3 separate regions of the Homo sapiens genome follow, and regions 1 and 3 are each linked to region 2. The links come from fine-mapping of genetic effects on gene expression. A gene starts in region 2. Each other region holds a variant in brackets. All regions are shown on one strand. Distances are from middle to middle. Region 1 has its middle 56 kb from the start of NCAM1. Region 2 holds the start of USP28 (ubiquitin specific peptidase 28). Region 3 overlaps USP28 (ubiquitin specific peptidase 28).

Evidence for each region.
Region 1: its variant is fine-mapped to the expression of USP28 in liver (GTEx, PIP above 0.99).
Region 3: its variant is fine-mapped to the expression of USP28 in whole blood (INTERVAL, PIP above 0.99).

The regions. Positions count from the first base shown.
Region 1 is chr11:112,903,352-112,907,593 of GRCh38, reverse strand. No RefSeq gene overlaps it. Among named protein-coding and RNA genes, the nearest start is that of NCAM1, 56 kb to the left of the region's middle. The variant T/C (reference allele first, on the strand shown) is at 1,723.
Region 2 is chr11:113,873,004-113,877,245 of GRCh38, reverse strand. USP28 (ubiquitin specific peptidase 28) reads left to right here and starts at 1,674. Exons shown (of 26, transcript NM_001346252.4): 1 at 1,674-1,801. The coding sequence starts at 1,745. RefSeq lists enhancers at 454-1,115, 1,166-1,415, 1,405-1,699, 3,286-3,786 and silencers at 1,436-1,595, 1,616-1,975.
Region 3 is chr11:113,808,791-113,813,032 of GRCh38, reverse strand. USP28 (ubiquitin specific peptidase 28) reads left to right here. Exons shown (of 26, transcript NM_001346252.4): 16 at 529-757; 17 at 3,779-3,970. Among named protein-coding and RNA genes, the nearest start is that of CLDN25, 31 kb to the right of the region's middle. The variant A/G (reference allele first, on the strand shown) is at 2,450.

The DNA.
Region 1 (4,242 bases), 970 kb after region 2:
GAGGAGGCTTCACTCCTGATGGTGTTCTTCTTTCCTCTGCAAATTTTGGAAACGTGGAAGGTGCAGGGCATGTTGGTGACGGGGCTTGACTGTAATAACCTGTTTGCCAGTCTGAGTTTTATAGCCTTGCTGAGGATTCCTGGGCTGAAACTGAAATTCTATTTCTGCAACTGAGGATAAGCATTTCTAATTCTGCTCATGTTGAAAGGGTCCAATTTCCAAAGGCACAGACTTAGCACTCCTTATTTGCACTGAATCATCAAACCCCTCGCCTGGGCCTGGGCTCGGCTCTGACTTCTTGCGGAGGAGCTCAGGGGAAGCAGGCAGTGATAGATGAGGCTGAAGAGGTTGGCAGGGGCCAGCTTTAGAGAACCATCCATGGCAAGGTAACACATCAAATTTTTATCCTATAGAGGATGGACAATCATTGAAGAATATTTAACTGGGGAATAACAGTCAGATTGGTGTTTCAGATTGAACATCATGGCAGCTGAGTGAGGATGGGTTGATATAAGGGGGGCAAGACAGGGGACAGGGAGGCCAGTTAGGAGTTTCTACTAATAGCTGGGTTGACAGCATCAGGACTCAGGGATATCTAGCCACCTGTTGGACTCGTCCACTTCGGTTTTCTGCAAAGAAATAAAACCTTATCCTCTTACCTCAAAATCATGCTTCTTCCGAATTCCCTGCCTTGATGAAAATTGCCCAACCACCCTAGTCAGAAACGTGGTAACCACTCTTGACACACTTCAATTTCCTCCTTCCCCATATTCTATCACCATGACCTGTCCATTTTACCTGTAAAATAGTATAGTCCTGAAATCTTCCCCTCTGCTCCATTCCTAAAATTATTGCTCCAATTCAGGTCTTCATATTCTCTCCCCTGACTTTTGCAATAGTCTTCCAAACTGAAAAGTAGTGGTCCTCAGAGGGTCTGCTCTTTCAGAGAGGGCAAAGAAATGAGAAACATCCCCCCCTCCCCACACTCAATTGCAAGACCAGCTCCTCAACAGGAAGGCTTACCTGAAACCCCCAGGCAGGTTAGGTACCTTTCTTAGTCCATTTGTGCTGTTAAAACAAAATACCTTAGACTGGGTAATTTATAAACAACAAATTTATTGCTCACAGTTCTGGAGGCTGGGAAGTCTAAGATCAAAGGCCTGCAGATTCAGTATTTGGTGAAGCCCTCTTCTTTGCTTCCTAGATGGCACCTTCTTGCTGAGTATTCATATGATGCAAGGGGCAAATTTTTTGTCTTCACGTGGTAGAAGGTTGGAAGGGCCAAACAGGTTCCTCAGGCCTATTTTATAAGGTCACTAATCTCATTCATGAGGACAGAACCCTCATAACCTAATCACCCCACAAAGGCCCCACTTCTTAATACTGCTGCCATGGTAATAAAGTTTAAACATATGAATTTGGAGGAGGAGCAAAAACATTCAGACCATAGCAGTACCCATTCCCTGCTTATCCCTATCATAGCATTTTTCACATTTTGTTGTCCTTATCTGGTAACATATTTGTCTTCCTCTCTTGATCAAGGGTCAGTAAACTAAAGCCTGCTGGCCAAATCTGGCCTGCCACCTGTTTTTGTAAAGAAAGTTTAATTGGATGACAGCCATGCACAATCACTTACACAGTATATAGGGCTGGCATTTTTCCCTACACAAGAATGGAGTTGAGGAAGTCCAACAACGATGGGGTAGCTCATAAATCCTAAAG[T/C]ATTTATTACCTGGCCCTTTACAGAAAAAGGTTGTAGACCCTGTTCTAGCCCATAAATATATCAAGGGTGTGAAAGAGAGTTTATGTGATTGCCGTATCCCTGGGATCTAGAACAGTGCTTGGAACATAAATACAAAGTGTGCTGTGTGTGTGTTGGAACGACCTACCTCTTGTGACTGGCTCAATGGTACTAAGGAAGATGAGTCACAGCCTGATTTCTATACACCTATGAACAGATGTAGTTCACCTCTTTCCCTCTTAGATGATGACCTCCACTATTATTACTCAGCAATGCTTAGCTCCTTTTACTGGTGGAGTCCCAAACACCTTGATTCATCATGCCTAGGGGTGGCATTGCCTGCAACCCATACACCCCAATAACGCAACCCATCTTTCAGCAAGATGGGCTATGGTTTCTGCCTACTATTCATCCCAAAGGAGCAGAAAAGTTTAGAGACTCCTATAAGGCACCGCAATCTTGGTTTAGTCCTGTAGTTATATTGCTTTCAATAAGTTTTGATGGCTGAGTCTAATGATTTCAGAGATAGATCATGGATTTAGACCAGACTTTCTAGAAGCAAAGCATTAGTCTGACATGAGGGCTCAGACCTGTATGTTGGTCATTTCAGTGATCAGGCACTGTGCTAAGCAGTTTGCATGCATTAGTTTTCTTTCTTTCTTTTTTTTTTTTTTTGGCCTTGAGATAGGGTCTGGCTCTGTTGCCTAGGCTGTAGTGCAGTGGCACAATCTCAGCTCACTGCAACCTACATCTCCCAGGCTCAAGTGATCCTCCTACCTCAGCCTCCTGAGTAGCTGGGACTACAGGCGCACACCACCAAACCCAGCTAATTTTTTGTTTTTTGATTTTTGTAGCAATGAAGTCTTGCTATGTTGCCCAAGCTGGTCTCAAATCCCTGGGGTAAAGCAATCCTCTTGCCTCAGTCTCCCAAAGTGCTGGAATTACAGGCATGAACCACTGCACCTGGCCACAATCAGTTTTGCTCACTGTTGCTCTATCCTATGTATCTAGAACAGTGCCTGGTGCCTGATGCATGGTAAGCACTCAAGAAAGATTTGTTAATGAAAATTCATTTGAATTGTTTTCTATCATTCTTTTCACCACTTGTGAGCTATGCCCTATTTTCCCCCATCTTATAGATGAGTAAGCAGGGCCAGGAAAGCTCTGCAGTACAGCTGGCCAGTGTCATGGGCAAGAGTTAAGCCAGAACTTTTTGGTTTGGAAGGCTGTGCTCTGTCCATGACATCAAGATTATCAAGATTTGGGCAGAGAGGAACTCCATTTGGGGTGTAACATCCTCACCTTTGTTATTTCAGTTCTAGAAATGTATCAGAAGACAAACTTCTTGGGTCACTATTTCCCAGGGTGTACAGATACTCCCTGACTTATGATGGAGTTATGTCCTGGTAAACCAATTGACAAGTTGAAAATATCATTGCTTCAAAAATGCATTTAATACACCTAACCTGCCAAACATCATAGCTTAGCCTAGCCTACCTTAAACATGCTCAGAACACTTACAGTAGCCTACAGTCGGGCAAAATCATCTAACCTAAAGCCTATTTTATAATAAAGAGTTGAATATCTCATGATTTAAACAATTTTTTTTTGAGACAGAGTTTCGCTCTTGTTGCCCATGCTGGAGTGCAGTGGCACAATATCGGCTCACTGCAACCTCTGCCTCCCAGGTTTAAGCAATTCCCCTGCCTCAGCCTCCGGAATAGCTGGGATTATAGGCGCCTGCCACCATGTGTGCCTAATTTTTGTATTTTTAGTAGAGAGGAGATTTCACTATGTTGGCCAGGCTGCTCTCGAACTCCTGACCTCAGGTGATCCACCTGCCTCGGCCTCCCAAAGTGCTGGGATTATAGGCGTGAGCCACTGTGCCTGGCTGAATATCTTATGTTATTAAGTACTCTACTAAAAGTGAAAAACAAAATGGTTGTACGGGTACTCAAAGTATGGTTTGTACTGGAAGCATAGCGCTTTTGCACCATGGTAAAGTAAAAAAAAATGTAAATTGAACCATTGTAAGTCAGGGTGCCTGTAATCATTTACATGATTTCAAAAGCAGCATTTTCAAGAGCTGAGATTCATCCTTTGCATAAAAAACAGGACAGAGGCCCTTGAGAATTCCGTGTTGCCTGTACAGGTTTTGGCATATTCTCTGAAAATTCTGAAGACAGCAGCCCCTCTCCCATGCCACTGTAGAGAATCCTGGGCTTCCCTAAGGCTACATCGTGTTCCATTCAAGCACAATGGTAATGGGGCAGTTGAGCTGTACACCGGCTTTTCAAAAGGCTCCAGTATAATGTAGCGATTGTGTCATAGACAACAATAATAAAGAAAAAACCTCCCAGCCAACTTTTTTCACATGACTGGACAGAGAAAACAAGCAAACACGAAAATGACTGAGCCTCCCCCAAGCCTCCTCTTCAGAAGGCAGGCTCCAGAACCATTGCTTGATTCTCTATGTCACAAATTGAATGAAGATTGGAAAC
Region 2 (4,242 bases):
AAAAAAAAAGAAAACCAGCATCAACCTGAAATCAACCTGTTCTACAGTGACACCCAGGTTGAGGCCATAAACACAGTCACTCATGAGGAAAGGAAAAATGGCAGAGCCACATACATAAAATGTCCTACTACTCGCAGACACAAACACAGTCAGCCTGTTGAATGTGGAAGATTCCAAGTTAGTATCACCGCAGCCATGCCAATCTGCCAGTTAATCTGCCAGGGGAAGCGGATCCCTGTATCTCCAGGTGGTGGAAGTTGCAGGAGTCCTAGTTCAGGCCTCAGAGAGTAATCTGGCCTCTCCTGGGAGCTGCACCTGACCTGTACCTGTTTCCTTTTGTCAAAAACTGCGCCCGCATGCAGACTAGGGAGGCCTGCAGGTGAAACATAACAATCCCAGCGACAACAATGCCAGGAGTATAGGAAAGGCCACCGTCCATGTTAAATTCACACTTAAAAGTGTAGCTTGAGAGTCAGACCAGACCAGGGCAAGGGTGTAGGTGCTACTCTTAAAAGACGCGCTTCCACACTCAGCCTCTACGCAGATTTGGGACACCCAGCAGCCTGTCAAGTGGGTTTGCCATCATAACACATTTGTATCTTAAATGTGAAACATGGTTCAGTAATCACAATTCCCACACAGTTGTTGAAAATACAATTCAGGCCTGGCGCGGTGGCTCACGCCTATAATCCCAGCATTATGGAAGGCCGAGACGGGCGGATCACCTGAGGTCAGGAATTCGAGGCCAGCCTGGGCAACATGGTGAAACCCTGGGTGTGGTACAGCGTGCCTGTAATCCCAGCTACTCAGGAGAATCGCTTGAACCCAGGAGGCGGAAGTTGCAGTGAGCCGAGACCGTGCGGCTGCACTCCAGCTTGAGGGGACAGAGTGAGACTCCGTCTCAAAAAAAAAGAAAAAAAAAAAAACAAACCGAAACCAACCAAACAAAAAACAATTCAATAGGAGCACCTGGTCTTTTAACATGAAATCGTAAATATCTGGCTCAAACGTAACAAAGTAACACAAAATTTTAGTTTGAACTTCTGAAAATCGAAAATGGAAAAACTGCAATTTTCCTTATCATGCCCAGGTTAAGAGCATCAGGGTTAAGGGCACCAAGCGGGACACCCATGAACGGAGGCTTTGGTCCGTTTGGTTAGCTTTAGACAAGCGACTGCATTCATCCTCCTTCTCTCCTTAAAGATGGTGAACACTTCTTCATGTCATTGGAGTTGGAAATGGCTACAAAGCCTGATGGGAAATCCTTTATTCCACGGTCATTCGGCAGTTTCCCACGGCGGGGGAACAGTTTTAACTCGCCCGTGGGGAGGGTGGAGCCGGAGGTCAGTCCTACAAATGAGGTTTTGAGGGCAGAGAGCGGAGAAGACTCAGGAACGCGGCTCCCAGGATTCGCAAACCCAGTTCCCGGACACTGGCAGCGCGGCCCGCAGCCTCCACCGGCTGTGAAGCTGACCAACAGCGACAGGCGGGGCCGGGATCACGTGACCGACGTCTGGTCAGCCGGGCGTGCGCGGGAGCACGCAGAACTGTTCGGCCCCGGGCCGCGCGCCTTGCGTGCGCGCGCATGCCGGGGGCGGGGCATGTGGGCCAAGCCTCCGGCGCGCGCTGCGGGCGGGGGCGGGACGGAGCGGGGTGGAGGGCGGGGGCGGGGCCTAGTCCTGAGAGGCTGGGCCGGCGGCGGCTGCGGCGGGAGACCGGTGACCCGCGGCTGGGCGCCTCGGCCATGACTGCGGAGCTGCAGCAGGACGACGCGGCCGGCGCGGCAGACGGCCACGGCTCGGTGGGCTCCGCGGCGGCGAGCGGGAGCTGGGGGCGGGCTCCAGGCCCTGAGGGGAGCGTGCGGGGCCTGCAGGGCTGCGGGTTGCGGGCTGCGGAGGGCGCCCCGGCCGGGCGGGACAGGGGGTGCGCCCGCCAGCGTGGGTGAGAAGGCCAAGGGCTCTGCGGGGCTCGGGCCGCGGAGATTGAGGACTGCATCTTCGCGTCCGTGGGCGAGCTGAAGTTGTAGGGGGATTTCCAGATTTTGGAAAACCAAATATAAAGGGCTGGACGTGGGGTTCTCCGCCGCAGGGATCAGTAAGGTGAGCCCTCCTGGGCCCCGTCCGGGGTGAGAAACTTCCGAAAGCGGCAGCGTTGGTTGGTTTTGTTTTGCTTTGACTTTTAAATCAGTTTTATGGCGGCGTTTTTAAAAGGTTAAAGCAGACCGAAGTTATCTCACTTAAAGTCCGGAATTAATCACCGTCTTCTATAAGACCAGGGGTCCCAGTTACCACCACTTCCCTCCCTCCCAACCCGGCTTTAAAAACAAAACAGCGCAGCCTCCCCAATTATTGCCTTCATCGCTCTAGATTTTTAAGGAGGGGGAGGAGCTGCGTGATGAATAGAAAGTCTACTGATGATGATCTCCTGTTCCCAATGTCTAAGAAGATTGAAATCAATATAAGGACTTCTGATCTAAGAATCTGGTGAGAGTGAAAGAACCCTGGTTTGAGAGAAAAGCTAATGTCTGTATGAAGAAACTTGGGAAGAGGGCAATTTGAGCATGTCTTCTAGTGTTACTTCGGAATGTTATAACTTAACACCACCTCCTCACCCCTCAAGTACTGCACTTTTTCAAGAGAAAACGGGAAATCTGTGCCAGTTGTTCAAATACGAGTTTGGAGATGAGAAACTATATTTGTCGTACAAAGCTGGCAGACAGATACCCTCAGGTGAGAATCCTTTTATACCTTTTTACTCTTTTGTCTGGAAGGCCAGTAGTATTTAGCATGGAGACACTTTTTTTTTTTTTTTTTTTTTTTTTTCGACAGAGTCTCCCTCTGTTGCCTAGGCTGGAGTGCTGTGGCGCGATGTCGGCTCACTGCATCCTCCGCCTCACCCTCCTGAGTAGCTGGTATTACAGGTGCTTGCCACCGGCCCGGCTAATTTTTGTATTTTTAGTAGAGTCGGGGTTTCACCATATTGGTCAGGCTGGTCTCAAACTCCCGACTTAAGGTGATTCGCCCGCCTCGGCCTTCCAGAGTGCTGGGATTACAGGCGTGAGCCACCGCGCCCAGTCTGGACGCACTTTTTTTTTTTTTTTTTTTCCAGACGGAGTCTCACTTTGTCGCCCAGGCTGGGGTGCAGTGGCGCGATCTCGGCTCACTGCAACTTCCGTCTCCCGGGTTCAAGCGATTCTCCTGCCTCAGCCTCCCGAGTAGCTGGGACTACAGGCGCGTGCCACCACGCCCAGCTAATTTTTGTATTTTTAGTAGAGATGGGATTTCACTGTGTTGGCCAGGATGGTCTCGGTCTCTTGACCTCATGATCCGCCCGCCTCGGCCTCCCAAAGTGCTGGGATTACAGGCGTGAACCAGGGCGCCCAGCCTGGATGCGCTTTTTAAAACTCATGTAGAAAAAGATACTTCCAGGTCCTGGGCTCCGAAACGAAAGTATCATGCACTGACTTCTAATGGAAATATTGTTAGATGTTCACAAGTGCCTATTGAAATGTGTCAAGATTTTTCTCTGGCTTCAGAGGTCAGTTCTATTTGTTTTTAGCACAGTGATTTAAAAACATGGGAAAATTTTAGTTTGGAGACTATCATATTGATTTAGAGAAGAGACTATTTTAAGGGAGAGAGAAGTCATATTTAAATTTGTCGTGGCTCAGTCATTTAAGACCATGTGCCTATTAATCAGTGGCATCTTCATTTACCTCTGCCGCAGTTTGAGTAGTGACCCTATTTCAGCATTCTCCGTTTGAGACTGTGTGTGAGCTACTTGATGAGCATTTGTATGTAAGTCATAGCTATTTTGGGAAGGCTTGGAACTCCAGTGGCTGTGGCTGGCTGGAGTACTCCGATTCCTGGCCACCTGCAGAGTGATGACATTTACTGTTCTTCCCAGTGATTTGCCCTATACGGAAAGCTGATAAGCTTGGAATGCTTGATAATGTTTGCCCCTTTTATTTTTGCTAATAAAATGCTTCAAGTTACCAGGATAGGTTGAAGGAACTTACAGGAAAAGTACCTTTTGATCTTACAGGAAAGATTTTAATAACTTCTTCCTCATCTTGGTAAGTTTCATGTTAGAATGGATTCTTTTATTTTGAACTCTCTGAGGCATTCTACCTTTCCCTTAAAGGATATTTCATTGTTCTAGTTGAGGAGAGCTATCCTTCCCTGACACTCAGAAGCTATTTAAAGCCTAGACTGCTTCCCTTCCCTTATTGGTCAGTTGTAC
Region 3 (4,242 bases), 64 kb after region 2:
CAAATGTTGTAACAAACAAGTATGTCATTAAAAGGGTCTTCACTCCAGATAGATAAGTGGTCACTTAACTCTAAGAAGCATGTGGCTGAATTAAATATGTTAACTTAAATTTTGTTGCCAAATAAAATAGGCATGGAACAAAATAGCTGCTAACCTTTGTAGGTCCCAAATATGCTAAGCATTTTCAGCATGAGTGGTCAAGGTGATTCTATTTTTAGATAAACAGAGTTTTGAATTAGAAGGATGCATATGTTTAGGTTATGTTTGGTTTTAGATCTGAGGAGTTTAGAGTTGAAAGAGTCTTCAGAGAGGTCATGTAGTTCAGCGATCTGGTTTTCAAGGTTTTGGAACTGAGACATAATTGATCAATTCCAAGGCTGTGTTTTTGTGGACTTCATCTTGAATCAACAAGATGTTTTAATATGAACCCCACATTAATCACATCATAAACAGTAATTTCTTAATAACCTAAACTTTATCAGATTACTTTGCTTCACCTGACTGGGGAATGTACATTCTGACTTACAGGTGCCTTATCGCTTGCATGCAGTTCTTGTTCATGAAGGACAAGCAAATGCTGGACACTATTGGGCCTATATCTATAATCAACCCCGACAGAGCTGGCTCAAGTACAATGACATCTCTGTTACTGAATCTTCCTGGGAAGAAGTTGAAAGAGATTCCTATGGAGGCCTGAGAAATGTTAGTGCTTACTGTCTGATGTACATTAATGACAAACTACCCTACTTCAATGCAGGTAAAAGTATCTTGGCAGAATCTATAGATTGGGGAAAATCTGTACTGCTCAGGGAGAAGAACAGTCTTGTACTGCTTTTTAAAAAATTTACAACTTACTATTATATAATAATAGATTTAAAAAATATAGACAGTATAAAAGGAAATGAAAAGGAAAAACAAGTTTGCTTTACTACTTTCTTCCTTGACCATGGGTCCCACTCCCAACAAGTACACAATGTTAGGTTTCTTATGTAGTCTTCAAGACACATTGTATACATATGCTAGATTCTATTTATCTGTATCTTCCCCTCCCCCTTTTCCCCAAGTAGATTATTTTTCCATTCAACTCTGAACCTTTTTCATTAATCGAGTATTTAGCAATCTCTATATTTTTAGTAAAAGAATCTTAACTGTTTAACAACTATATAGTAATTCATTGTGTGGAATATACGTATTTTTAAAATTTACTCGTAGATAGACTAATTCTCTAGTTGTTGTTGTTTTTAGTGACATCTTTTTTTTTTCTTGCCCCATCTTATGGTGCTGATAGTACATATATTTTTGCACCCTTTGGAGAATAACTAAATTTTTTCTTTCTTTTTTTTTTGAGACATAGTCTTGCTTTGTCGCCCAGGCTGGAGTGCAGTGGCGCAATCTCAGCTCACTGCAACCTCCGCCTGCCAGGTTGAAGTGATTCTCCTGCCTCACTCTCGCAAGCAGCTGGAATTACAGGTGCCCACCACCATGCCCAGCTGATTTTTGTATTTTTAGTAGAAACGGTGTTTCACCATCTTGGCCAGGGTGTTTTTGAACTCCTCACCTCAGGTGATCTGCCTGCTTCGGCCTCTCAAAGTGCTGGGATTACAGTTGTGGGGCCCAGAATAACTAAATTTTACAGGTGTATTTGCCTGAATAGTTTCACAGTTGTTGTAATACTACTACTCATACAGAGAGCAATAATAATTATCATTTATATTGGTACTTTACTTCTTAAAGCATGCTTTCAAACTTTTATTTCTCTAAGAACTTACAGCTGTGAAAAGGAGGGAAAGAGTTTGAAAATGTTGTCATCTTCATTTTCCAGCTGGATAACAGATTCCAAAGGGTTCTAAAGTTGAGTAATCACATAGTCAATAAATGGCAGTCCCAAGATTCAAATACAATTCTCCAAATTCTGTGGTGTTTTCAATTTACATTATTCTCTCTTTCTTTCACATCCTCTATGAGAGGTCTTATGATGAACATTTTATAAGTAAGATAGTAGAAAGCTTTTGCCTGTAGTATTCAAACTTTACTGTGTGGCGTAAGTAAGGAAACATCGCCCCGGCATGGTGGTTCACGCCTGTAATCCCAGCACTTTGGGAGGCCAAGGCGGGCGGATCACTTGAGGCCAGGAGTTGAAGACCAACCTGGCCAACATGGTAAAACCCTGTGTCTACTAAAAATACATAAATTAGCTGGGCATGGTGGCACACACCTGTAATCCCACCTACTTGGGAGGCTGAGGCAGGAGAATTGCTTGAACCTGGGAGGCAAAGGTTGCAGTGAGCTGAGATCGTGCCACTGCACCCAGCCTGGGCAACAGAGTGAGACTTTGTCTCAAAAAAAACAAACATGTAAGGTGTTCTGTCCAGGCAGCACGTTATCTTTCTGATTTGCTAGTGTGGTTGGGGATTAGGGAATGGAGAGAATGATAAATGAACAGTAAGTA[A/G]TCTTCACAATTGTATATTTATGCTGCGAAGGAATGAATAGCTGCTTGAATGTACTAGCTGTTGTTAATATATAGGAGCCTTGTTATTGCATGCATGGTTTATTTTTCTATTATAGAAACAAACAAGTGGAAACTGTCATTTGCTTAGTGAAAAGGCTGATTAATGGCAACCAGTAAGTGAATGTGTTAATCTGCTATAGACTTTTTTTGTTTGTTTTGGTCACAGGGTTAGAAAATGAAATTTTATATGTCATTGATATCCTTGCCATTAAAGCCAGGTATTATTGACCATTTCACCATTGTATCAAATTGCTTTCTCATAGTACTGAATTGTATGAAAGTTGGTGGTATAAATGTCTTGAAATTCATCTCTAACCTTTTTGAAATGGACATTCTTATCCGCCAAATGCAGTGGTTAAATGGATAAAACTGTTTATCTTGAAATTTTTATTGGCTCTAATGATTTTCTGAATTTCCCTGAAATGATTGGTATATCCAGTGATTGACAGTGACCAGTTTCCAAATCTTTTTTTTTTTTTTTTTTTTTTTGAGATGGAGTCTCACTCTGTCTCCCAGGCTGGAGCGCAGTGGCGCAACCTCAGCTTACTGCAACCTCCTCCTCCCAGGTTCAAGCGATTCTCCCACTTCAGCCTTCTAAGTAGCTGGGATTACAGGCATGCGCCACCACGCTTGACTAATTTTTGTATTTTTTTTAGTAGAGACAGGGTTTCACCATGTTGGCCAGGCTGGTCTTGAACTCCTACCTCAAGTGATTGGCCTGCCTTGGCCTCCCAAAGTGCTGGGATTACAGGCGTGAGCCACTGCACCCGGCCCACTTTCCATATCTTTAACTCTGTGTTATTCATTCACTTAGCAGATGTTTAATGAGTGCCTACTAAATGTCAGGCACTGTTATCAATTGTTGCCCTTACATTGTCCATACAGGTTGAGCATCCCACATGTGAATATCCAAAATCCCAAATGCTCCAAAATCCACAAAACTTTATGAGCCTTTTTCATTACATGATGCTGGAAGGGAATGCTCATTGGAGCATTTTGAATTTCAGATGTTGGATTTTAGGATTTGGGATGCTCAACTATAACTAATTGTGCAGATTTTCTAAAATATGAAAAAAATTTGAAGTCCAAAACAGTTCTAGTCCCAATCATTTTGGATAAGAGATACTCAGCCTGCATTTCTGATGGATTCTATGTGCATGTATTTTTAGTTAGGAGTAAGATAAAGATGAAATACCCTGCTTTCTTCTTTTCTAAAAAGGATGTTTTCGTTCCTTGTGACCTTTTAACTCTATCTTTGCTTTTCCTCAGAGGCAGCCCCAACTGAATCAGATCAAATGTCAGAAGTGGAAGCCCTATCTGTGGAACTCAAGCATTACATTCAGGAGGATAACTGGCGGTTTGAGCAGGAAGTAGAGGAGTGGGAAGAAGAGCAGTCTTGCAAAATCCCTCAAATGGAGTCCTCCACCAACTCCTCATCACAGGACTACTCTACATCACAAGGTATCTGAGAAGGCATTTATGCCAGTGATCCAGTAACATCTCATGCTGTACTCCCCTAGCCAGCCCTATACCCTTCAGCTGGCTAGGTGATGCCACAGTCTTCACAGTATATTTCATATACAGTTGGTATGCCAGGTACAACCTGATGGAATGAATTGTGGCATTAGAATGTGATTTCTGATGAACAGAAGCAGTATCAGAAAGACTAACTACCTGTGACCTTCACTGTGTATATAGTTTTGCTTATTTCCCAGGTTATGGGAGAAACTATG